Homo sapiens: one gene and its partners. The gene in region 6 interacts genetically with the main gene of each other region. Each region holds a gene or a part of one and is shown on either strand. Other genes may lie near its edges. The genes, in order: CDC40, PSMD1, CDK1, MRPL22, CKAP5, MFAP1 and NUP43.

Region 1 (3,500 bases), on a different chromosome or scaffold from region 6:
TTACACATATTTGTGTTCTCCAGTATATGTATGACAATGAGTATTTTCTGGATAAAATTTTTTTTTTTCTTTGAGACGGAGTCTCGCTGTCTCCCAGGCTGGAGTTGAGTGGCGCAATCTCCGCTCACTGCAAGCTCTGCCTCCTGGGCTTACACCATTTTCCTGCCTCAGCCTCCCTAGTAGCTGGGACTACAGGCACCCGCCACCACGCCTGGCTAATTTTTTGTATTTTTAGTAGAGACGGGGTTTCACCATGTTAGCCAATAAAAATTTTTACATGCAACATTGTAAGGTTTTGCACTTTAGAAATCATGCAGTGGACCCTATTGGATTGCAAGAGTTGGTTATTAAGTGACTTTAAGGTTACAAAAACAAAAGCAGATCTGGCTTTCTCTCATTTCAACCAGTGACTATGTTACTTCCCCCGAATGTATTCTTTGCCTTAGCATAGCCAACTAAAGTAAAATAAAAATTCTGCCTCTAATTTTGAGGCATATTTTTCAGTTTTTTCATGTGTGGTATTTCCTATATTTGTGAGCTTCAAATGGACGACCTTTTCCCTCTGCAATCTGTTAAGGGCCAAACTCAGAGGATATCTTTATCTGAAGTTCTGTTCTTTTATATCATTCACCTAAATTCTTCTATTAGGAAGTTTAGTCATTTCTGTTTTCTGGGAGGAAAAAAAACTATGCCATAAATTGATAAGTAACTTATAATAATAATATTTGTGATCTGCTTTACAGTTTACATGGTGTTTTTATGTCTCTTTTCTTATTTGGGCACAGGAAGAAATGTGGAAAAGACTGAAAAGTGAATATTACCCAGTTTTATTCTCAAATTACTTTGAATCAACAAAAAGATAAACTATTTAAACTTATTTGACCCACAGGGTGCCCTTCACTTACTGCATTTTAATTTTTGTGGATAATTGAAACTGAATAGAAATAATTTGTTATTCTGTGGTAATTCCAATTGCATACCTAATTGGTATTGAATGCCTCATGGGTATTAAAACAAGGTTGTGGTATTGTCCAAGTTTTCTAATTAAATTTCTGTAAAATAACAGCCCTTCGTTTTCTTGAGAGTTGTTCAATTTGTTCTATAATTTTAGCAGGAGTCAGAGACTGGGACTTACTTATATTTTTTATTGGCTGCCAGTGTTGCTTATATAAACAGTAATTTCTTAAATTGTACTTTGCATTTAAAAATTGATGTGTCATGATACTCTTCAAAATAATTTCAATTTGGAATATTTTAAATACCCTTAATTGGAAAGATCTCATATCCCATATTATAAAGTGGTTCTAGCAACTATACACTATAAAATCCTTTGGGAAGATATGAATGTGGCTAAGCCTCATGTTATTTTAAGCAGTTTGTCACTAGGGGTTGAATATTAAGCGGGAAAAGCATTTAATTTAGCTTTTATGCAGTTTAAACAATTTGTATGTAACCTGTTAACTTTATAGTACTGAGTTTGCTATTGGGCCATGTGCAAGATAGTATCTTTCATCAGTAAAGATTCTAGTGTTCATTCTAGGGTGATATAGATAATATTTGTCATCTTTTCAATGGCCTAGCATTTGAAACCCCTTTCTTAAGGGTCTTAATTTGAAGAACATCCCTGTTCATCACCCATCTTCAGAAGCTGAAAACCCAGATTATTCTAATTCAGCTCCCTTTCAGCTGAGGCTCAGGACTGTTGGGTGGGTGTATCTGTTGGGCTCAGCCAAACAGATGTACCAACCTAAGCTTTCTAATCTGAAATTTATCCACAAAGAAGCCAGGAAAGAGGACTTAAACTGGCAATGATGGTCAATGTTTTCTAGTTTCTCAGGCCAGCAGTTTCAATAGCAGCATCCAGTGGTAGCCATAGCAGTTTAGTAGTGGTGTTCAGTCATGGTAAACAATTATCCTCACTGGATGGGTTCTGTGATGATTAATTTTGAATTGTGATTTCATCTATTAAGTGTATACTGACCCTTTATTTCTGCCTACTTGTCAAAGCTGATTCTCCACACTTCCTGGTAATTCTAAGAGAAACTCATAAGGATTTTATAATGCTGAATCAGCCTGCTGCTTGCAACTAAGAACCCTGACTGATACACCTAGTTACTCTGCCAGTGATTTTTTAATTTGTCACTAGTTAGATCTCTTTAACATTGTTCATTGTGGTTACTTTGAGCTCTTCCCCTTCCCATTTATTCTATTAGTAGCTTGGGTTAAGTGACTTAATCCTGCTAACACTTAACCTCACAGATTATATGAAATAGTGTGTCTGCTCTGGTGCTAGCATGTTAGTGTTGTTAAATTCTTTTTTTTCATATTATTTAGCCTCTTCTAGAGAGCTGTAAACTTATTTATATATTATATAGTCTATTGTCTGTCTCCTCCACTAGAATATAAACTCCACAAGGGCAGGTATCTTTGTCTATTTCTGTGGGCCCAGGACAGTGCCTGGCACATAGTAGGCACACAATCAAAATCTGTTGAATGAATATATGAATCTGGAGCTCCATGCTTGCTTTATAAATTTGCCTGTACCCTGACTACACCAAGAAAATAAAAGGATCAATTATGATTCCCAACACCTCCAAACATCTGTCATCTATCACCCATTCTTACCTTTGTCATCTCTATTTCATCCCAAAGAGAGCACTCCTCTTTTCAGAGGCTAATCTTCCAACTGTGTCCTGAATTTTATTCCCTCCTACCTCTTCTAGGGCAACTGTACCTTTATCTGGTCCTTTTTGTCATGTGTCTCTCCCTGCCATCACCTGCCTTCTAGCCTACGATTGACCACATCTTTGACTTAGTCTCTTCTTAAGGAAGAAGAAAAACTTGACCCTGAAAATCCTTCAACCTGACACCCCATCTGTTCTGTTTTTTACCACCAAATATTTTCAGTACAGATTTATATGGTGGTGTTTTTCTAGATCCTCATTTACACCTCTGCCTCTTGCAGCTGGCTTTCCATAGTCCTTACTAACAGTCACTCTCACAAAGGTTTTTTGTGACATAATTGCCAAATCCAATGATTGTTGGTCAGCCTTATCCTACTTAATTTCTCTACAGATTTGGCTTTTCTGTCTTCAATTTAATTTAACAAATATTTATTGAATATGTGCTGAATGCCCTGCGTTCTACTGGGCAGTGAGGATATATGATGTACATAAAAGCCATGTGCAACAAATAATATATCACAAGTACTATCAAATAGAGTACAGCATTTTTTTAGGACCACAAACAAAAACCCAACAGTTTTCCTGAGGCAGGAGGAGGGAAGGTATCAGGAAAAATAAGAAGGCGGCATAAAATAATAAAGGCATTGCCTAAGGTACAAGGCGGTAACATTGCCTACAGCACAGAAAGCATCAAAGTGCTTGCTATTTTTAAAAATCAGCAATTAGTCTAATATGACAAAAGTGAGGGTGTATTAAAGCAGATAAGGAAGTATTACAATAGGCCAGGCAAGATATAATGAAGCCCTAACTAGGCCA
Region 2 (3,500 bases), on a different chromosome or scaffold from region 6:
CAATTTACAAGATAATCAGTTATTTTATTTCCTCAACAGCAAAATGCATTGATCACTACACCAAACAATGTGTGGAAAATGCAGATTTGCCTGAAGGAGAAAAAAAACCAATTGACCAGAGATTGGAAGGCATCGTAAATAAAATGTTCCAGCGATGTCTAGATGATCACAAGTATAAACAGGCTATTGGCATTGCTCTGGAGACACGAAGACTGGACGTCTTTGAAAAGACCATACTGGAGTCGGTAGGTAGATGATGTTATTTTAGAAATTATTGTTGATAGGGAATCAGCAAAGCAAGTTATTCAAACTGAAACTTTCATAGGCAGTGAAAAGAAAATCTAGTTTAGAAATAGCAGGTGATCTTTTGCCAAATATTTTATTTTCATATTTATGTATGAACCTTGGTTGTGTTTTGTGTTCATGAAATATCTGCTTTTATCTTACCACATAATCCTTTGAAGTCTTGCATGGGGAAGTTGTATTAATTACTCTGCCCTTTTTAAGAAGACAATAAACTATATTTTAATGCATTTATTAGGGTTAAAACTACTCAGCTAGATTCCTGGTTTGCGGTGTTTGCAATAATTAAGACAATTTAAGTCACCAACCGAAGTGGTCAGAAAGGTACAAAGCTGAGTAAAATGGACATTGATCTGCAGGCTTACTTTGCCTCACCAGCTATTTCTTTCCATGAGCTAGCTCTCTGTACACTAGCCATTTTGGTATCTTCTCATCTAGATGAACCCTGCCTCGTTCCCCCTTCCAAAAATATTTTTTACATTTCTTTTTTCTTTCTTTTTTTTTTGAGATGGAGTCTCGCTCTGTCAACCAGGCTGGAGTGCGGTGGCGCAATCTTGGCTCACTGAAACCTCTGCCTCCGGGGTTCAAGCAATCCTCCCATCTCAGCTTCCTGAATAGCTGGGATTACAGGCGTGTGCCACCACACCCAGCTAATTTTTGTATTTTTAGTAGAGTTGGGGTTTCATCATGTTGACCAAGCTGGTCTCAAACTCCTGACCTCAAGTGATCCACCCGTCTCAGCCGCCCAAAGTGCTGGGATTATAGGCATGAGCCACCACACCTGCCCTCCATTCCTTTCTTTGCCTGCTTTATTTCTCCTCACAATCCAAAACTTAGCTCAACTATCCCTTGTTTGCAGAACTTTGATCCCAATACCCATGCCTTCCTCAGCCCCTAAGCAAAGACTAGGTCCAGTTCTGTTGTTAATCTTATGGAGCCCTGTACATTTTTTCATGGTGTTTATCCCTTGATAATTGTATTAGTAGATAGTTAATAGCTGTCTTTCCCACTAGATCATAAGCTATATCGGGACAGGTATTTGTGCCTTTTTCACCACTGTATCCCCAAAACCTAACACAGTGTTTAGCGTCGATAATACGATTTGTTTAAATGAGTGAATGAATGAATGGCCTAATGTGATATAATGGCCCTTGTTTCCCTCTCAATTTCATTTTTGTGCAGTTTTAGCCCATCCTTGTCTTCGTGTGTGTAAGATTACATTTTTGGCTTTCATTTATTCAACAAATATTTTTTCAGTGCTTACTGTTTGCCAGATACTGTTCTAGGCATTGGAGATGTGCATTGTCCCCATTCATCCATGGTTTTGCTCTCTGTGGTTTCAGTTACCTGCAGTCAACTACAGACTGAAAATATTAAATAGAAAATTCCGGAAATAAACAATTCATGTCTTAAATTGTGCACCATTCTGACTAGCACAACGAAATCTCTCACCATCTCTTTCCATCCCGCATGGGATGTGAATCATCCTAGTAGATCTATGCTGTGTACACTGCCTATTAGTCACTTTAGTGGCCACCTTGCTTATCAGATTGACTGTCGCAATATCACAGTGCTTGTGTTCAGATAACCCTTATTCTACTCAGTAATGGCCTCAAAGTACAAAAATAGTGATGTTGGCAATTTAGATATGCTAAAGAGAAGCCTTAAACTGCTTCCTTTAATTGAAAAAGTGAAAATTCCCAACTTAATAAGGAAAGAAAAAAAATTGTGCTGAGGCTGCGCTGAGATGTACATAAGAATGAATCTTCCATCCATAAAATTGTGAAGAAGAAAACAGAAATTTGTGCATAATTTATATAGAGTTTGGTACTGTTTGTGGTTTCAGGCATCTGCTGGGGGTGCTGGAACATAGTCCTCTCAGATAAAGGAGCACCTACTATAGTAGCAAACAAGACCAACAAAGTTCCTGCCCAAAGCAAACACTTCATTGGGGAATCTAGAAGGAGAACAAGCAGTCAAACAAATAAATATATAAAGTAAAAGAATGAAAAATGTTTTAAAAAAAAAAAAGCAGAGTAACAAATGCATCTTTCTTTGTATCCCAGTGCACATATACATATAGATGTAATTTAAGCTTTATGAAACTAATACCTACTCTTACTACTTGTGATATAACTCTGTTATTTTTAAATTGTATTTTTTATTTTTTTAATTTGCTAGTCACACTTCATTAAATTGATTTTATTACGCAGTGGAAAGTCACAACTCACTTTTTGAGAAACACTCCTGTAGCTTTCAGTGTGCTAATTTATGTTGAAGGCCTTTTACAGGGTGAAGTCTCAAATATTGGGGATACTTTTGAGAATCACCAAGTAAACACATAGAGCCTGGATCAAAGTTTTCTTGTAGGGAGAGCACCAGACAGATGTGGCAGTACTCAATGCTTGAGTCACTGAGAGCTGTGTTGTGTTTCCTGGCCAGCAAGTGAGTGTAGGCAGTAAGTCATGAGGGAGTCTAGTAGCAAGATAAGAAGCAGAAAGACTTCAGCAGACACATTTGGAAAACATAGCTACTTAGTGTATGGACAGTTGTATATCTTTTATAATAATTAACAGCATCACTTTATTATAGTATACTATGTTCATGTAATAGTGATTCTGAGTACCACTAAATATTATTTTTAATCCATTTTTTATGATGATGTGGAAATATGTAATTCTTTTAAGATTTTCATCTAAAATGGTTTAAAATTCTTGAGTTTGTATTGCTTAAGAGGTCTAAATAATTGGCTTCCTAGATTGGCTAAAGAAGCAAGATTAAAATAATTCAATTTCTAAATAAATATAATGCTGCAATAACCAGATAACGTTATATCTTTAAACTATCTCTTTCAGAATGATGTCCCAGGAATGTTAGCTTATAGCCTTAAGCTCTGCATGTCTTTAATGCAGAATAAACAGTTTCGGAATAAAGTACTAAGAGTTCTAGTTAAAATCTACATGAACTTGGAGAAACCTGATTTCATCAATGTTTGTCAGGTAATGACATTAAATTATGTTTCATTACATTGCTCCACGCTGTACTGTGCTATGCTATACCACTTCACATTTTATTACTTTATATTACTATAATGGCTTTATACATGTATCTCAGCTGATCTTCACAGCAGCCCTGTGAAAATAAGGTATGTGCTTTATATTCCTTTTTATTAATAAGAAACTAAATCTCACAACACT
Region 3 (3,437 bases), on a different chromosome or scaffold from region 6:
AGGAGTTTTCCTAGCTACAGTTTTTACATTTTCATTATTTTTTACTTTATTTATTTACATCATTCCCATCCTTTGTTGTACTTTAATTCTTTATATTAAACTCTCCCCATTCAAATCACCACCTTGGTTTCTGTCTCCTGACTGAACCCTCCCTGATTATAGTCAGATTGATTCAAAGACAGGTTTTGTTCCTTAAGGTATATTATTTCTGATACATTTAGGAATTGCTAACTATAATTTATGTTTGATCTGTGTTATATTGCTGACTTGGCATTTAGTGTTTCTGAAGGAAAGGGAACATTGTATAATAAAGGATTATTGAAAGGCTGTCTTCTGTGGAGTTGTCTACCCTTGACCCAAAGACTGTCTCCAGATCAAAACTAGTAACAGTGCTCATCTGATTAGATGTCTTGGCTGCTTGTTAGTCTTTATCATTTTTTTACATGGCTATATAAATAAACTAAGATTATTTTGTTTTCTTTGTCTTAAACAAATGCTATTGACCTCATTAGCTTTGTTCTAACAGGCAATATTTTTACCATATGATAAATATACTAAAATGGTTGGTTAGTTCTAGATCACTAATCTGTTATTTGACTTATTCACGTTTTTTAAATAATTTAAAAATCATTTTTTATCGACGCATTATTATACATATTTATGGGGTACAGTGTGGTATTTGGATACATGTATGCAATGTGTATTGATTAAATTGGGGTAGTTAGCATATCCATTGCCCCAAGCATTTATTATTTCTTTTTGTTGGGAACATTCAAAATTCTTTGTTTGGGCTATTTGAAAATTTACAGTAAATTATTGGTAACTGTAGTCAGCTTACAGTGCTGTAGAACACTAGAGCTTATTTTTCCTTTTGAGCTGTAATTGTATCCATAAACCAACTTATCTCTGTCTTCCTCTACTAAGCCCTGAATAACCACTATTCCACTCTATGGCCATTAGATCAACTTTTTACGTTTTCAAATATGAGTGAAAACATGTGGTATTTATCCTTCTGTGCCTGGCTTATTTCATGGCTCATCCTTGTTGTCATAAATGACAGAATTTCATTCTTTTTTTATGGCTGAGTAGTATTCTAGTATTCCATTGCGTGCACGTATGTGTGTGTACACTACATTTTCTGTATGTGTGTATGTATACACCACATTATCTGTTGATGGAAACAGGTCGATTCTGTATCTTGACTATTGTGAATAGTGCTTCAATAAACATGGGAGTGCAGATATCTCTTTGACATAATTGATTTTATTTATTTTGGACATATACCCCCAGCAGTGGGATTGCAAAATTATATGGTAGTTCTAGTTTGTAGTTTTTTGAGCATCCTCTAAACAGTTTTTCATAATGGCTCTACTAATTTAAGAGCCCACCAACAGTGCGTAAAAAGTTGCCCTTTCTCTGCATCCTTATCAGCACTTATTTTTTGTCTTTTGATGATAATTACTCTAACTGGGTGTGATAGCTCATTGTGGTTTTGATTTGCATTTCCCTGATGAATAGTGATGTTGAGCACTTTTTCATATACTTGCTGGTCTTTGTATGTCTTTTGAGAAAGTTTTATTCAGATTGTTTGACCATTTTTAAAATTGGATTCTTACTATTTTTTTTATTCTGGATGTTAATTCTTTGTTGTATGAATGATTTGCAAATAATTTCTCCCATTCTGCAGATTGTTGCATTATTCTGTTATTCTGTTCATTCTGTTTCTTTTGCTGTGCAGAAGCTTTTTAGTTCGATATAATCCTGTTTGTCTATTTGTTATTGCTGAGACAGGGTCTTTCTCTGTCACCCATGCTGGAATGCAGTGGCGTGAACAGGGCTCACTGCAACCTCAACCTCCTGGGCTCCAGTGATCCTTCCACGTCAGCCTCCTGAGTAATTGGGCCCATACACAGGCATGCACCACCATGCTAGGCTGATTTTTAAATTTTTTAGAGACGGGGCTGTCAGCATATTTCCCAGACTGTTCTCGAACTCCTGGGCTCATGCAATCCTCCCGCTTTGGCCTCCCAAAGTGTTGGGATTATAGGCATGAGCTGCTGCACCTGGCCTCATTTGTCTATTTTTGATTTTGTTTCTTGAGCTTTTGAGGTCTTATCCATATGATTTTTGTCCAGATCAATATCAATAACAGTGTTTCCTCTGTTTTCTTCCAATAGTTTCATAGTTTAAGGTCTTATTTAATCCATTTTGAGTTGATTTTTGTGTATGGTTAGATATAGGGGTTTAGTTTCATTGTTCTGCATGTGGATTATCCAGTTTTTCCAGCACCATTTATTGAAGAGATTGGCTTTTCCCTAGTGAATGTTCTTGTCATCTTTCTCAAAAATGAGTTGACTGTAAATACATGGATTTATTTCTGGATTCTCTATTTTGTTCTGTTGGTCTCTGCGTCCTTTTTTATACTAATATCATGATGTTTCGGTTACTATAGCTTTGTAATACATTTTTGAAGTCAGGTGATACGATGCCTTCAGCTTTGTTGTTTTTGCTCAAGATTGGTTTAGCTATTGTGGGTCTTTTTTGGTTCTATATGAATTTTAGGATTTCTTTTTATTTCTGTGAAGAATGTCCTTGGTATTTTGATGGAGATTGCACTGAATTTGTAGATTGCATTGGGTGGTAATATGGTCATTTTTATATTAATTCTTCCAGTTCATGAACATGGGATGTCTTTTTTGTATCTTCCTAAATTTTTTTCTTCAATGTTTTATAGTTTTTAGTGTAGAGATTATACATCTCATTTGTTAAATTTATTCCTAGGTTTTTTGTACCTATTGTACATTAGATTGCTTTCTTGATGTTATTTTTCAGCTAGTTATTGGTGTATAGAAACTATTAATTTTTGTATGCTGATTTTGATTTTGTATACTGCAACTTTGTTAATCAGTTCTAAGAGTTTTTGGTGGAGTCTTTTAAGTTTTTCTATATATAAGATCATCTCTGCACACAGGGACAATTTGACTTCTTCCTTGGCAATTTGGATGCCCTTTATTTCTTTCTCATGTTTCTTATTCATGTTATAATGGTACTGTTAGTACCATCTTAGCAAGTAAGCAGTACCTGCACTTTGTTCAGTGTCACCCCAAATCTATTATCAATGGGTTTGGTTTTTCAGTGGGGGGAAGATAAGGCTGTATAACTGTCTTGATCTTTAGTGATTTGAAAAGCAAAAAAATATTTATTATGCTTTTATCTGTTTTGTCTTCTAATGAATAGAACTTAGAAATGAAATATTTATCTTCAATTTTGTGTACCTTTAATTGACTTAAACAATATTATTGGTGGCAGTCATACAACCTTTAAAGGACAGCCCTAATAAAAATATAAATGTTTAAGTGTAGGTAATTTTATGCACCACATTTATTCATTGTAAAAATTTGCTTTTTAATAGGTAGTAACACTCTGGTACAGATCTC
Region 4 (3,500 bases), on a different chromosome or scaffold from region 6:
CTTAGACATTTCACCTGCCCAAAGTAAATGCTGAGGTTTTTTTTCAGTTTTGGAAGAGGATGATTAACTTTTGCCTTTCTTGTAAACACTTCTTCCTTTTTGCCATCCTCTGGTCAGGATTACCATTGTTTATATGTGTAAAATTTGAGGGTAATCATACAAAATTAAGGTTTAAAATTATCCCACCACAAGAATGCACAAATTAAAGGGTCTCTTCTTTTTTATTTTTATTTTTTTGAGACGGAGTCTCGCTCTGTCGCCCAGGCTGGAGTGCAGTGGCGCAATCTCAGCTCACTACAAGCTCCACCTCCCGGGTTCATGGCATTCTCCCGCCTCAGCCTCCCGGGTAGCTGGGACCACAGGCGCCGGCCACCATGCCCGGCTAATTTTTTTTTTTTGTATTTTTAGTAGAGACGGGGTTTCACCATTCACAGGATGGTCTCGATCTCCTGACCTTGTGATCCGGCCGCCTCGGCCTCCCAAAGTGCTGGGATTACAGGCTGAGCCACTGCTCCCGGCCAAGGGTCTCTTCTATATGAAAGATTTCATTGAGTGGATTAATTTTTGCAGATTATTATTATCAGTCATGATAGTTCTTTCCTCTCCCTGTCTCCCCAAGAAACTTTATTGCTGAAAATGTAATTAGGCTATTGCTATAGTTTCAGGCTGTCTGCTTCTATTGCAACTGAAATCTGCCACATATTAAAAGATGGCCACTTGAGAAAACTGCTCTTTCTAAGGCATTTGAAAATTTCCAGCAGGAGTCAGAATGTTAGAAAGTTTTGAGACCTCCTTGCTATAGTTTTCCATAACACATGTTTTCTAATTTTTTTTTAAATGGCAGTTTGGTATAGTAGTGGAAAGAAAGTGGGTTTTAGAGTCAATAGAGGAACTTTTGAAAGTAGATGTGCTAGACATTGTATCAGGTGTATCATACTTCTCTGTTCTTTGAATTCCAACTTTGTCTCTTGCAAACCTCTGGTCTTAGACAAGTCACTTGATTTCTCTGATTTTCAGTTTATATGTAAAATGTTTCATCCCTCAACTCATAGAGTTAGACTAAATGAAATAATGAGTGAAAAGTGCTTTTTGAACTATACATTGTAATTAAACAGGACATACCTACAACTTTAAATAGAAGATAATAAAAGCTAACATTTACTGAGAAGTTACCATGTGCCAAGCACTATAAAATGGTTTCTTGAAATAGGTTACTTTATTTCCCTCTAATTATCGTTTTATTTATTTTACAGAAGAGGAAAATTAGAGAGAGGTTAAGTAGCTTGCTCAAGATTATGTAGCTAGTAAATGGCAGAGTTAGGATTCAAATCCAGGCAGGCAGTCTGATTCTAGAACCTATGCTGTTGGCCAAACACCTAGAATATTGGCTTTTCACATGAAAACACTTGTCCATTTTGCCATTTTTCTCCTCATTAATAATGAACGTTTTCTTGTACTTTTTCTTTTGTTCTTTTAATCAGCTAAATGTTTTAAAGATACTTTCATTTAAATCTTTTAGGATTTCTTTGGATAGAAATGTTGCAAGTGTTGACACAAACCAGCCATTGTATAGTTTCTATTTCTCCCGTAGTAATCTTTTAACATAGTGAGACTTTGGAAAAATACAACTTTGTGTAGGGGAAAATAATCTCTAAATTCTTAGTAATGTTTCTATTTCTTATGGCAGCATTTTCTTTAGGCCTAGAAAGTAAAAACTTAAATAACAGTATATGTTATTGTCATTTTGTGGTAAACCTGCTAACATTTTCTTTCTGTCCTTTTTTTTCCAATTTGTAAGGAAATCTACCACTGTCGAAGACAAATAAAATATAGCAAAGACAAGATGTGGTATTTGGCAAAATTGGTAAGCTGCAATGACTATTACCATATAATTAATAATTTAGGAAAGAAGCTATGAGTTCCCCTCCCCACCCCTCACCCCAGGATTTGAAAAATAAAAAAGATTTGTGAGGAATGTGATATAATTGGTAGGTTGTCAAAAGAATGATTGTTCAGAGATGTATGATTTTCCTTAATTTTCACCTTTTTCTGAGAAACTAAATCACATTGGATAGATAGATACTAAAAGGCATCAGGAGTTTGGCTATAACCAGAGAATCCAGGAAACCCACCTATTTATCTGTAAACTTGATTCAACCTGTTTTAAAACTGTTGCTTTTAAGTTTTTTTCCCTAGGAAATGAAATTTATAGATGAGGGGAGACTGAAGCAGCAAATATACATGTAATACATTTATCCTATAGGAGAAGGAGATGCCTTGAATGCCTAGTGTGGTTGTTACCAACCTGTGGTCTCTCTGTCATGTTTGCTGTCTTTTAATGTTATTGAAACTATTATAATCTCAGTTTTATGGTTAAAATGTTTGTTTCATTTTGACTGAAAGAGAATAGTGTCTCCTCTCAAACTTGTTTTCTTCTCTTTTATTTGGGTTCAATTCACTGTTTTTAGAAGTTACTCAAATTATGTAAGACTTTCATTGAAAAGGAAACATTGACTTTGTAAACTAATTTATTTTCTTTTGTCTCTCACCCTTTAATTCTAGATACGAGGAATGTCTATTGACCAGGCTTTGGCTCAGTTGGAATTCAATGACAAAAAAGGGGCCAAAATAATTAAAGAGGTAAACTTACAAGTTTGGGTGTGGTAGGGAATGGGGAACTGGGGAATGCAGCTGTCTTGCAATTATTAGTAAGCTTAGCCTAAATCATGAATTCCCTAAATTTTCTGTTGTAAATGCATACTTTATATAATACAGATTTAGGGTTCTCAGTTTATTAAATATGTGTATACTTTAGGAATGTTGTGTGCTTTAGGGTTTATTTCCTGAGGTGCTTTTATTTCCACCAAATATTTATCTGTTTTTTACTGCTTATGATGTGATGAATCTTATTTTTAATGATTTGGGGCTTGGTACGTATATGTGTGTATTTGTGTGTATGTATGTGTGTTTGTGTATATAATTTATTTCTTGGAGCAAGGCTGAACTTCAAGGTATATTTTTTTGAAGATTTTTTTTTTCCTATAAAGGAGAGTTTTTATAACTAAGTAATTTTGTAACTAAATGGAAAGAGCCCTGGACTGGAACTCAAGAGACTTGGACTCTAGTCCTTTCTCTGATCTTTTTCTTGTGACCGTGGGCAAGACACTTAACCAGTCAGTTTCTATTTTTCTCACCTAAACTATGTGGAATTGGATTAGATGACCCCTAAAGATCCTTCCAACTCTAAATGTAGCTAATTCACTAGATACAAATGTGCTGATGGTAATTGTGGTGACTCTTTCTAGGAACATGAATATTCTTTTTTTATTACATATATTTTTCTTTTTTTTTTTTTTTTTTTTGAGACGGAGTCTAGCTCTGTTGCACAGGCTGGGGTGCAGTGGCGCCATCTTGGCTCACTGCAGTCTCCGCCTCCTGCGTTCAAGCGATTCTTCTGCCTCAGCCTCCCGAGTAGCTGGGACTACAGCTGCGCGCCACCA
Region 5 (3,500 bases), on a different chromosome or scaffold from region 6:
GGAATATTTTATACCTAGGCAAGATTCTTTTCCTGCAAATTATGTACAGTGACTACTTGACTTTCAGACTATAGAGGTTATGATCTTTTGAGGAGCAGAGCCTTTGCAGCTTGGAAACTGAATCCAAATTCTCCTGTGTTCCTCTTCTTGAAAGAAAGCACAAGTTAGTGTTATGATTCCATTAACTGTTAAACATGTTGTTTCTTACTTGTCCCATATACTGGTGTTCAGCTGAATCTGGCCAAGCATAGGCATCAAATGTGGAGTATTTGAAGATCATTTGGGAGTGAGTTATTTTAGATAGAGGGTAAGAGGAAAAGGAAATACTTATTTGCTAAATGGATTACCAAGGGTTTCCTTAACCCGAAAAATTTTTGTTTTTTTTTTTTTGTTGTTGTTGTTTTTGTTTTGTTTGAGATGGAGTTTAGCTCTGTTGCCCAGGCTGGAGTGCAGTGACACAATCTTGGCTCACTGCAGCCTCTGCCTCCTAGGCTCAAGCAATTCTCCTGCCTCAGCCTCCTGAGTAGCTGGGATTATAGGCATGTGCCACCACGCCCGGCTAGTTTTTGTATTTTAGTAGAGATGGGGTTTCACCATGTTTGCCAGACTGGTCTCGAACTTGGCCTCCCAAAGTGCTGGGATTACAGGCATGAACCACTGTGCCTGGCCCAAAAAGAATTTTTGAAAGAGTAACTGTCAATTGGCACAAGGAAAGCTATACTTAGTTCCAGTAAATTGTAAAAAGCAAATTCTTTATCTAGCAACCATCAGTCTGAATTAAAATGAGTAATGCCTAAAATACCTTGCATTAATATCATTTTGCTTACTTCTGGACTATAGCACATCAATGATTCTGCTCCTGAAGTCAGAGATGCCGCATTTGAAGCATTGGGTACTGCTTTGAAGGTGGTTGGCGAGAAAGCAGTAAACCCATTCCTAGCTGATGTGGACAAACTCAAGCTTGATAAGGTAGGTTAGTAATGGATTGGACTGAAATTGGACAACATTCCTGTCTCTTTGCATCATGGCTTTGTCTCTTGACAGTTATAGAGTACTGGTAGTTTTGATGAGGAGTTCTTGATTTTTTTTAAATTGCCATTTATAGTAGGAAAGAAATGCATAATTGAAACAAGTTTTGGAGGATGCTCTCTGGTACTTTTTGTCTTCAATTTTGTCTGTTGTTTTATTAAGAAAAAAATGCTGATATCACCTCAGGAAATTTATTTCATCCTCCACTGATAGTTCAGACCGAGTTTGAAAACTTAGCTTTTGAGAATTTAAGTTTCATTCCAGGCTATGATGGTGATAATTGTAGAAATAGCTTTCAAATTATAACCGAAAAAAAGCTGAGTGACCAATCTGTAGAGAAGGTGAAAACAGTTCTGTGAGATAAATTTATTTCTAAGGTCCAGAAAATTACCTTCTTATATGTGAATGTCTTCCATAAACAATGTGGTCATTTTAAGTTTATTACAATTCTAATTTGTAAAGAAATAAAATGTAAGATTAATATCTTACGTATGTCTATCTACTGCCAAAAAAGTGTAGATAATTTATCTTTTTTGTTGAAAGGGAAATTTTTTCTCTGAAAATTTTTTTTTTTTTTTTTTTTTTTTGGCAATGAATCTCACTCTGTCACCCAGGCTGGAGTGCAGTGGCACAATCTCAGCTTACTGCAACCTCTGCCTTCTGAGTTCAAATGATTTTCGTGCCTCAGCCTCCCAAGTAGCTGGGATTACAGGCGCCTGCCACCACGCCCGGCTAAACTTTTTTATTTTTAGTAGAGATGGGGTTTCACCATGTTGGCCAGGCTGGTCTCAAACCTCTGACCTCAAGTGATCCACCCATCTCGGCCTTCCAAAGTGCTAGGATTATAGGTGTGAGCCACCTTGCCTGGCCATTTCTCTGAATTCTTATGTGTAGTTGTGGTTTAGAAATGTAATAACGTAGTGGTTGTGTTTCAAAGTTGGGCTTAATGATGTTCATCTCACTTTCATTCTCCAGATCAAAGAATGTTCAGAAAAGGTAGAACTGATACATGGTAAGAAAGCTGGACTAGCTGCTGATAAGAAGGAATTCAAACCTCTGCCTGGAAGGACTGCTGCTTCAGGGGCTGCAGGAGATAAGGACACAAAGGACATTTCTGCACCCAAACCAGGACCTCTAAAAAAGGCACCTGCTGCTAAGGTTAATAGATTATTTAAAAATAGAAGTTAGTAAGGAAGGGTCTGAGTCTCAGGTTCGTGGTTGTTCCTCTAAAATTATTTTGTTTGAGAAATGAATTCATTGGCCACATTAAAAATACAGCAGAAAATCTGTTAATGAAGATAGGATATTCCAGCAATAAATTCAGCTGTTTGGAGCTTTAATAGAGATAAAAATGGTGATGAAGGCACAGAAGTGTGTTTTGTCAATTTAACATAAAATTTACTATCTTAACTTTTTTTTTTTTTGAGATGGAGTCTCGCTCTGTTGCCCAGGCTGGAGTGCAGTGATGCAATCTTGGCTCACTGCAACCTCCGCCTCCCAGGTTCAAGTGATCCTCCTGCCTTAGCCCCCCAGTAGCTGGAATTACAGGCACGTGCCACCATGCCAGGCTAATTTTTGTATTTTTAGTAGAGATGGGAATTTGCCATGTTGGCCAGGTTGGTCTTGAACTCCTGACCTCAGGTGATCCACCCGCCTTGACCTCCCAAAGTGCTGAGATTACAGGCGTGAGCCACCGTGCCTGGTCTGTCTTAACTTTTTAATGTGCAGTTCATTAATATTAAGTATGTTTATAATGTTGTGCAGCATCACCACAATCCATTGCCGTAATGCTTTTCATGTTTTAACACTGAAACTCTATGAATCAATTAACTATCCTCCCATTCTCAGCTTCTTCCAGCCCCTTCTTTCTGTTTCTATGAATTTGACTACTTTGTTTTTATTTTCTATATTTTTTAGAGACAAGGTCTTGCTCTGTTGTCCAAGCTGGAGGGCAGTGGTGCGATTATAGCTCACTGCAACCTGGAACTCCCAGGCTCAAGTGATCCTCCTCACTCAGCCTCCCAAGTAGCTAGGATGACAGGGACTTGCCACCATACCCAGCTTATTTTTAAAAATTTTTTATAGAGGGCCTCGCTGTGTTGCCCAAGCTAGTCTTGAACTCCTGGCCTCAAGTGATCCTCCTGCCTTGGCCTCCCAAAGTGCTGAGGTTACAGGCATGAGCCACCAAGCCTGGCCTTGAGCATCTTTTCATGTGCAGGTGGCAATCTGTAGTTGTATAGTTCTTCTTGGAAAAAAATATCTACTCAAGTTCTTTGCCCATTTTTGAATTGGGTTGTTTTGAGGCAAGGTCTCACTCTGTTCCCCAGGCTGGAGTGCAATGGCACAATCACAGCATACCTCCCAGGCTCAAGCAATCCTCCCACCTCAGCCTTTTGAGTAGCTGGGACCAGAAGCACGTGCCACCACACACAGCTGATTTTTTATTTTTTAATATTTTTGTAGAGACGGGT
Region 6 (3,500 bases):
ATCAAGTCATATATATAAGCCAGTCAGTCAAATGGCCTATGGCTTTTTGTTCGTCTCATCAAACACAACAAATTCAAATGTAAAAAGATACAACTTAGTATCATTCTATTTTTAATCCTATCCCCACAAACAAGGAACATGATCAGAGTCCTGCCAAAGCAGTGATCTCATGTTTTTAAGGCTTCAACAAATGAGCACTGGCATGAACTTTTTCTTATATCCAGAAAAAAACTTCCCATGTTCCTTTATCATACCTCATCATCAATTTCCTCCTCCTCTTCTTCACTGCTGTCTTCTCGTTCCATGCGCCAAGCATCTCCTTCTACTTCTGAGTCACTCTCTCCTACCACTTCAGGTTCCACTATTTTTCGATGTCGAGCCAATCTGAAAAACAGTATCTCCAAATGTAACACCAATGTCATAAAAATGAAGTAGCATCAACTGCATTTCCATAGCCACAGAGCACATTATGTTTGCCTTCATTAATACTGAAGTTTTTTTTTTTTTGAGGCAGGGTCTTGCTCTGTCGCCCAGGCTGCAGTGCAGTGGTGCGATCTTGGCTCACTGCCACCTCTGCCTCCCAGACTCAAGTGATCCTCCCACCTCAGCCTCCTGAGTAGCTGGGACTATAGGCGTGCCACCACACCTGGCTAATATTTGTATTTTTTGTAGAGACGGGGTTTTACCATGTTGCCCAGGCTGGTCTTGAACTCCTGGACTTAGGCAATCTGCCCACCTCAGCCTCTCAAAGTGCTGGGATTATAGGTGTGAGCCACCATGTCCATCCAGTATTAAAGTATTGAGGTGGAGGAAACTGAGGTGCAGATTAAAGAAACTAAACTAGGATGTCAGAGCGAATAGTCAAGTTGGGCCTGAAATACTAAATGTATGTTGAGGCATCCTGGGGCACCACAGCAAGCCAGCAAACTCATAGGGATGCATTGGGATTTTTTTTTTTTTGAGACAGAATCTCACTCTGTCACCCAGGCTGAAGTGCAAGGGCATGATCTTGGCTCACCACAACCTCCACCTCCCAGGTTCAAGTGATAATCCCTGCCTCAGCCTCCCGAGTAGCTGGGATTACAGGCATGCACCACCACACCCAGCTAATTTTTTTATTTTTAGTAGAGATGGAGTTTCGCCATATTGGCCAGGCTAGTCTTGAACTCCTGACCTCAGGTGATCCGCCTGCCTAGGCCTCCCAAAGTGCTGGGATTACAGGCATGAGTCACTGAGCCTGGCCTGCATTGGAATATTTTTAATAGCTCAAGATAATTCACTTTCAACATTAAGTCACACTACATTCCTTTCGAGAATATCGTGTCTTTGTGAAACTGGGTTTTGGTGGCTGCTGTGATAAAAAGTAAAAGAAAGTATAGTATGAAAATCAATATAAAACAAGACATGAAAAAGTGACAGTGCTGATTCCAAGGTTTGAAAGGCTGTCAGTGTCCAACAGGCAAACAAATTCCACTAGTAACTATGGTTATGTGAGAATGAATAAAAGTGTTTTTTCCCCCCTGGGCACTGTAATTTTATTTTTTTTTCTTTTTTCTTTTCTTTTTTTTTTTTTGAGATGGAGTCTCGCTTTGTCACCCAGGCTGGAGTGCAGTGGCGTGATCTCGGCTCACTGCAATCTCTGCCTGCCAGGTTCAAGCAATTCTCTGCCTCAGCCTCCCAAGTAGCTGGGATTACAGGTGCCCGCCACCAGGCCTGGCTAATTTTTTTGTATTTTTAGTAGAGATGGGGTTTTACCAAGTTGGCCAGGCTGGTCTTGAACTCCTGACCTCGTGATCCACCCGCCTCAGCCTCCCAAAGTGCTAGGATTACAGGCGTGAGCCACCGCACCTGGCCATGGGCACTGTTAATCTTCAAGTGGCAAAGTTATTAGGACATAAATACTTATTAAGTTACTTGGCTCTAACTACTTAATAACTAAAATAAACAGAACTGTTTTGGCCCAGGAGCTCTGTGAAAAAACTCCTGGGACAATTATGAACGGTGAAAGTTCAGGACTCCTGGCCTACTCTATAAAGTAATGTCTCCATCAATATATAACATACAAAATCCCTCACTGGGAGGCTCTCTTTCTACCATGAGACCTTTATAAGGTCTTTTCTCCTACTTCAGTGTCATTTCCCCTTATTAGCATTTAGAATAAGTAGATGTATAAAATCAATTTACCAAAGTTTATAAAACATCTTTGTGCTAAAAAGACTCCTCTCAACAGCCAACAAATGGTCTGTGTTTTCTATTCCCATAAGGAGTTGAGTAGGTCCTTTAGGCCAGAAGTAACCTGCTGTTTCCTGAAGCTGCCACTTTGTAGCTTTGGTCATGTAACTTTCTTAGCCCCTTTGTGCTCTTAGTTTCCTCCTTTTGTGAAATGGGGATAATAGCACCTATTTCATAAAGTTATTGTATGGATTACAAGAATTAGCAAATGTAATCTACTTGGTAGTACTATTCAAGTATTAGCTATTATTATTATTATTAAGCTGTAGAGGTTCATGTTCAAGTAAACACAATCACAGACATTACCTCTCTTCCACATCTTCACTAATACGGTTCTGTAAACGCCGTAGCCGGGGGTCACTGGATGAATCCTCCTCCTGTTCCTCAGGCTCTGCTTCTTGTTCTTTGGCTTTCTTAATGAACTGAAATTCTTCATCCTCCTCATCTGAGGACTCCATAGGGGCATAGTCTGGCCTTTTTCCGGACACATAACGCTTTACCTTCACTTTTTCCATTGAAATCTCACCTGGGCGAGAAAGGTAACTTATGTTTCAGTAGCCTCTTTCTCAATGTGCTTCAACCCATCACGGCCTTTGCAAATAGAGCCCTTTATTCATAGTAGACAAGAGTCTAAGCAGAAGAAGAAGAGAGCCACTACCCAACCATCTACTCTTCTAATGGTGTTTTCCTACAAAGGCCAAGTCATGAGACTGCATCCTTGTGAAAGCCAACACTGATGATAATGAGGCTTACCTTGAGTACAATGAAGTAGAGGAAGGTAGGCAGTGAAACAGTAGAAAAAAGTCCCCCCCCAAAAAGGCAGACTGCATCCATCACAAATTCATGGTATCCCACCTCAACTATACCCTTAAACAAATTATTTGTAACAGTGCCCAGCACATAGTAAGGGTAATTTCTGCAGGAACATAAAACTGCTCAGGCATTCTTGTAGTTCCCTCTGGAATTTCCATGGCAGCCTTTATAACATACTGCCACATGACTCAATATTCTAATCTTACCTATTTCTACCTTCTTTTCCTTTACCTTATGTGTTATCAAACATGCAAGAGTATGTAATCTCTTACAAATACAATTCTTTTTTTTTTTTTTTTTTTGAGACGGAGTCTCGCTCTGTCGCCCAGGCTGGAGTGCAGTGGCGTGGTCTCGGCTCACTGCAACCTCCGCCTCCCGGGTTCAAGTGATTCTTCTGCCTCAGCTTCCTGAGTAGCTGGGACTACAGACGCATGCCACCATGCCCAGCTAATTTT
Region 7 (3,500 bases), on a different chromosome or scaffold from region 6:
TTGGGATGTTAGACAAGGTACTATGCCTGTATCTCTGCTGAAGGCTCATGAAGCTGAAAGTAAGTATTGTGAAGATACAGAAAGTTTATATTGGGTGAGTTATATGACATATAATAAGCACCTTTCCATAATGATACATGTGGATCATTTTACATCATAGCTTTTAATGGCTGAATTGTGTAAATTTAAATAGTTATGTAATTTCTTTTTACTCGACATTTAAGTTCTTTAACATTTGTTTTTGTTTTTTTGGAGACGGAGATTCACCCTTGTTGCCCAGGCTGGAGTGCAATGGCGCTATCTTGGCCCACCGCAACCTCTGCCTCCTGGGTTCAAGCGATTCTCCTGCCTCAGCCTCCCGAGTAGCTGGGATTACAGGCATGCACCACCACACCTGGCTAATTTTATATTTTTAGTAGAGACTGGGTTTCTCCATGTTGGTCAGGCTGGTCTTGAACTCCTGACCTGAGGTGATCTGCCCAGCTCGGCCTCCTAAAGTGCTGGGATTACAGGCATGAGCCGCCGTGCCTGGTTTTTTTTTTTTTTTTTTTTTTAAAGAGACAGGGTCTGGTTCTGTCGCCCAGGCTGGAGTGCAGTGGTGCAGTCACGGCTCACTACAGCCTTGACTTCCAGGGCTCAGGTGATCCTCCCGCATCAGCCTCCCAAGTAGATAGGACTATAGGTGTGTGTCACCATGCCTAGCTGATTTTTTGTTGTTGTTTGTTTTTTTTTTTGTAGATATGGGGTTTCACTTTATTGCCCAGGCTGGTCTCAAACTCCTGGGCTCAAGTGATCCTCAGGAAGTGCTGAGATTACAGGTATGAGTTATGAGCCACCACATCAACCACAGGTTTAATTCTTATATCCAAAACTGTAGTTAGAATCCTTAGATATTTATCTCTGTGTGTGTTTTTTTTTTTTTTTTTTTTTTGGAGACAGGGTCTCTCTCTGTTGCCTAGGCCAGAGTGCAGTAGTGGTGTGATCATAGCTCATTGCAGCCTTGAACTCCTGGACTTACACGATTCTCCCAAAGTGCTGGGCATAGCCATTATGCCCATGCCCAGCCTTATGTACTTATTTTCTTAGGATAATTTTTTAGAAGTAGAATTGCTAGGCCAAACATTTTGCATAGCGCATTGACAGATTTTTCTACACAAAAATAATACCAGTTTAAGCCAGGCACATTGGCACATGCCTGTAGTTCCAGGCTCCTCCTACTCAGGAGCCTGAGGCAGGAAGATTGCTTGAGCCTGAGAGTTTGAGGCCAGCTTAGGCAACATAACCTCTTTAAAAAGTTAATAATACTAGTTTAATCCAGGTGAGTGGCATGCACCAGCTTCTCAGGAGGCCGAGGCAGGAGGATTGCTTGAGTCCAGGAATTCAAGGCTGTAGTGCATTATGATTGCACCTATGCACTCCAGCCTGGACAATATAGTGAGACCCCACTCCCTGAAAAGTGATAAAAATCATACCATTTTATATGCCATAGTGAAGTGTGCAAGAATGCCCTTTTCCCATGCAAATGCAGGCTGTCATATTTGTTAATAAATGTTGTGCTCCTCAATTTATTGTTGCATCACATCATTTTTTTTAACATGAACAATAGATTTATAAGCTTTTTTTTTTCTTTTGATTCTGGTGGAGATGATTTAGCCGGACAGAAATTTTTCATTTTCTCACTCTGTCTTTGATATCATGCCAGAATGGATTATCCTTTTTTTTTTTTTTTTTTGAGACAGAGTCTTGTTCTGTCGCCCAGGCTGGAGTGCAGTGGCACAATCGCGGTTCACTGAAACCTCTGCCTCCTGGGTTCAAGCCATTCTTCTGCCTCAGCCTCCCTAGTAGCTGGGACTAAAGGCATTTGCCACCATGCCTAGCTAATTTTTGTATTTTTAGTAGGAATGGGGTTTCACCATGTTGGCCAGGCTGGTCTCAAACTCCTGACCTCAGGTTATCTGCCTGCCTTGGCATCCCAAAGTGCTGGGATTACAGGTGTGAGCCACTGCGCCCGGCCCTATATATTTTTTTAAAAATGGGGTCTCTCTCACCCAGGTTGGAATGCAGTGGCATGATCACAGCCCACTGCAGCCTCAGCCTTGCCTCCCTGGCTCAATCAGTCCTCCCACCTCAGCCTCCCGAGTAGCTGAGGCTACAGGCACGCACCCCTACTACACCCGGCTAATTTTTTATTTTTTGTAGAGACAGGGTCTCAATATGTTGCCCAGGCTGGAGTGCAGTGGCATGGTACCTCACTTAAGCCTCAACCTCCTGGGGTCAAGTGATCCTCTTGCCTTGCCCTTCTGAGTAGCTGGGACTACAGGTATATGCCACTACACCTAGCTAATTTTTTTTATTATTAGATTTCTATAGAAATTATGATTCCATAAAAGATTTTGAGGAAATGATGGCCGGGGGCGGTGGCTTATGCTTGTAATCCCAGCACTTTGGGAGGCCGAGGCAGGTGGATCACCTGAGGTCAGGAGTTCGAGACCAGCCTGACCAACATGGAGAAAGCCCGTCGCTACTAAAAATACAAAATTAGCCGGGCGTGGTGGCACATGCCTGTAATCCCAGCTACTAGGGAGGCAGAGGCAGGACAGTCACTTGAACCTGGGAGGCAGAGGTTGTGGTGAGCCAAGATCGCACCATTGCACTCCAGCCTGGGCAACAAGAGTGAAACTCCGTCTCAAAAAAAAAACAAAACAAAACAGATTTTGAGGAAATGAGGAAGACTGGTATCTTTCAGAATTGAAAGTGATTTTGGAATATATAGAATTTCTTTGGGGCTGGGCACGGTAGTTCATGCCTGTAATTTTAGCACTTTGGGAGTCCAAGGCAAACAGATCTCTTGAGCCCAGTTGTTTGAGACCAGCCTGGGCAACATGGAGAAACCCCATGTCTGTTAAAAATACAAAAGTTAGCCAGGTATGGTGATACATACCTGTAGTCCTAGCTACTCAGGAGGCTGAGATAGGCGGATTGCTTAAGCCTTGGAGGTCAAGGCTGCAGTGAGCCATGACCATGCCATTCTGCACTCCAGCCTGGGCGCCAGAGCAAGACCCTGTTTCAAAAAGAGAGAGAGAATTTCTTTGAGTTGAATTATGTAGAAGTTTGTCACTGACCTATGTTCCTAAAGTATGAAGCATACATATGTGGGCTAAGAAATAGTTTTTCTTGATAAATAATCAACAAATAAAAAATAAAAAGCCCTCCATCTGAGACTGGATCCAAATTCTTGGAACATTTCCAAATTTTGGTTTGGTAGAAGTCAGTTGCTATTTCTGTGATAAAGACCAGAAGTATTCAGAATCTTGGCATTAACCAATATTGGATATTGCCTCTTAGAAATTCATTTTTATATTTCATTAGGATCTTTCTCAGTTTTTCCAATAATATAATCTTCATATATTAATGACACAGGAATTGAAAAATAAGACAACTTACCAATTTAAAAAAAAACTTTTCCGTAAAAGACAGTCATTCCTAGCTGGGCACACACC

The links.
Region 1: changes in MFAP1 (region 6) and CDC40 together harm fitness more than expected from each alone (negative genetic interaction), as found in Homo sapiens cells (one large-scale study listed by BioGRID).
Region 2: changes in MFAP1 (region 6) and PSMD1 together harm fitness less than expected from each alone (positive genetic interaction), as found in Homo sapiens cells (one large-scale study listed by BioGRID).
Region 3: changes in MFAP1 (region 6) and CDK1 together harm fitness more than expected from each alone (negative genetic interaction), as found in Homo sapiens cells (one large-scale study listed by BioGRID).
Region 4: changes in MFAP1 (region 6) and MRPL22 together harm fitness more than expected from each alone (negative genetic interaction), as found in Homo sapiens cells (one large-scale study listed by BioGRID).
Region 5: changes in MFAP1 (region 6) and CKAP5 together harm fitness more than expected from each alone (negative genetic interaction), as found in Homo sapiens cells (one large-scale study listed by BioGRID).
Region 7: changes in MFAP1 (region 6) and NUP43 together harm fitness more than expected from each alone (negative genetic interaction), as found in Homo sapiens cells (one large-scale study listed by BioGRID).

What each region holds. Positions count from the first base shown.
Region 1 is NC_000006.12:110,186,927-110,190,426, forward strand, and holds part of CDC40 (pre-mRNA-processing factor 17), read left to right. Parts: intron 1-3,500. UniProt on the Homo sapiens protein: Required for pre-mRNA splicing as component of the activated spliceosome. Plays an important role in embryonic brain development; this function does not require proline isomerization.
Region 2 is NC_000002.12:231,066,867-231,070,366, forward strand, and holds part of PSMD1 (26S proteasome non-ATPase regulatory subunit 1), read left to right. Parts: intron 1-39; coding exon 40-245; intron 246-3,158; coding exon 3,159-3,302; intron 3,303-3,500. UniProt on the Homo sapiens protein: Component of the 26S proteasome, a multiprotein complex involved in the ATP-dependent degradation of ubiquitinated proteins.
Region 3 is NC_000010.11:60,788,478-60,791,914, forward strand, and holds part of CDK1 (cyclin-dependent kinase 1), read left to right. Parts: intron 1-3,412; coding exon 3,413-3,437. UniProt on the Homo sapiens protein: Plays a key role in the control of the eukaryotic cell cycle by modulating the centrosome cycle as well as mitotic onset; promotes G2-M transition via association with multiple interphase cyclins.
Region 4 is NC_000005.10:154,954,573-154,958,072, forward strand, and holds part of MRPL22 (large ribosomal subunit protein uL22m), read left to right. Parts: intron 1-1,798; coding exon 1,799-1,864; intron 1,865-2,562; coding exon 2,563-2,640; intron 2,641-3,500.
Region 5 is NC_000011.10:46,794,281-46,797,780, reverse strand, and holds part of CKAP5 (cytoskeleton-associated protein 5), read left to right. Parts: intron 1-840; coding exon 841-969; intron 970-2,004; coding exon 2,005-2,187; intron 2,188-3,500. UniProt on the Homo sapiens protein: Binds to the plus end of microtubules and regulates microtubule dynamics and microtubule organization. Acts as a processive microtubule polymerase. Promotes cytoplasmic microtubule nucleation and elongation. Plays a major role in organizing spindle poles.
Region 6 is NC_000015.10:43,814,691-43,818,190, forward strand, and holds part of MFAP1 (microfibrillar-associated protein 1), read right to left. Parts: intron 2,759-3,500; coding exon 2,539-2,758; intron 385-2,538; coding exon 255-384; intron 1-254. UniProt on the Homo sapiens protein: Involved in pre-mRNA splicing as a component of the spliceosome.
Region 7 is NC_000006.12:149,733,030-149,736,529, reverse strand, and holds part of NUP43 (nucleoporin Nup43), read left to right. Parts: coding exon 1-59; intron 60-3,500. UniProt on the Homo sapiens protein: Component of the Nup107-160 subcomplex of the nuclear pore complex (NPC). The Nup107-160 subcomplex is required for the assembly of a functional NPC.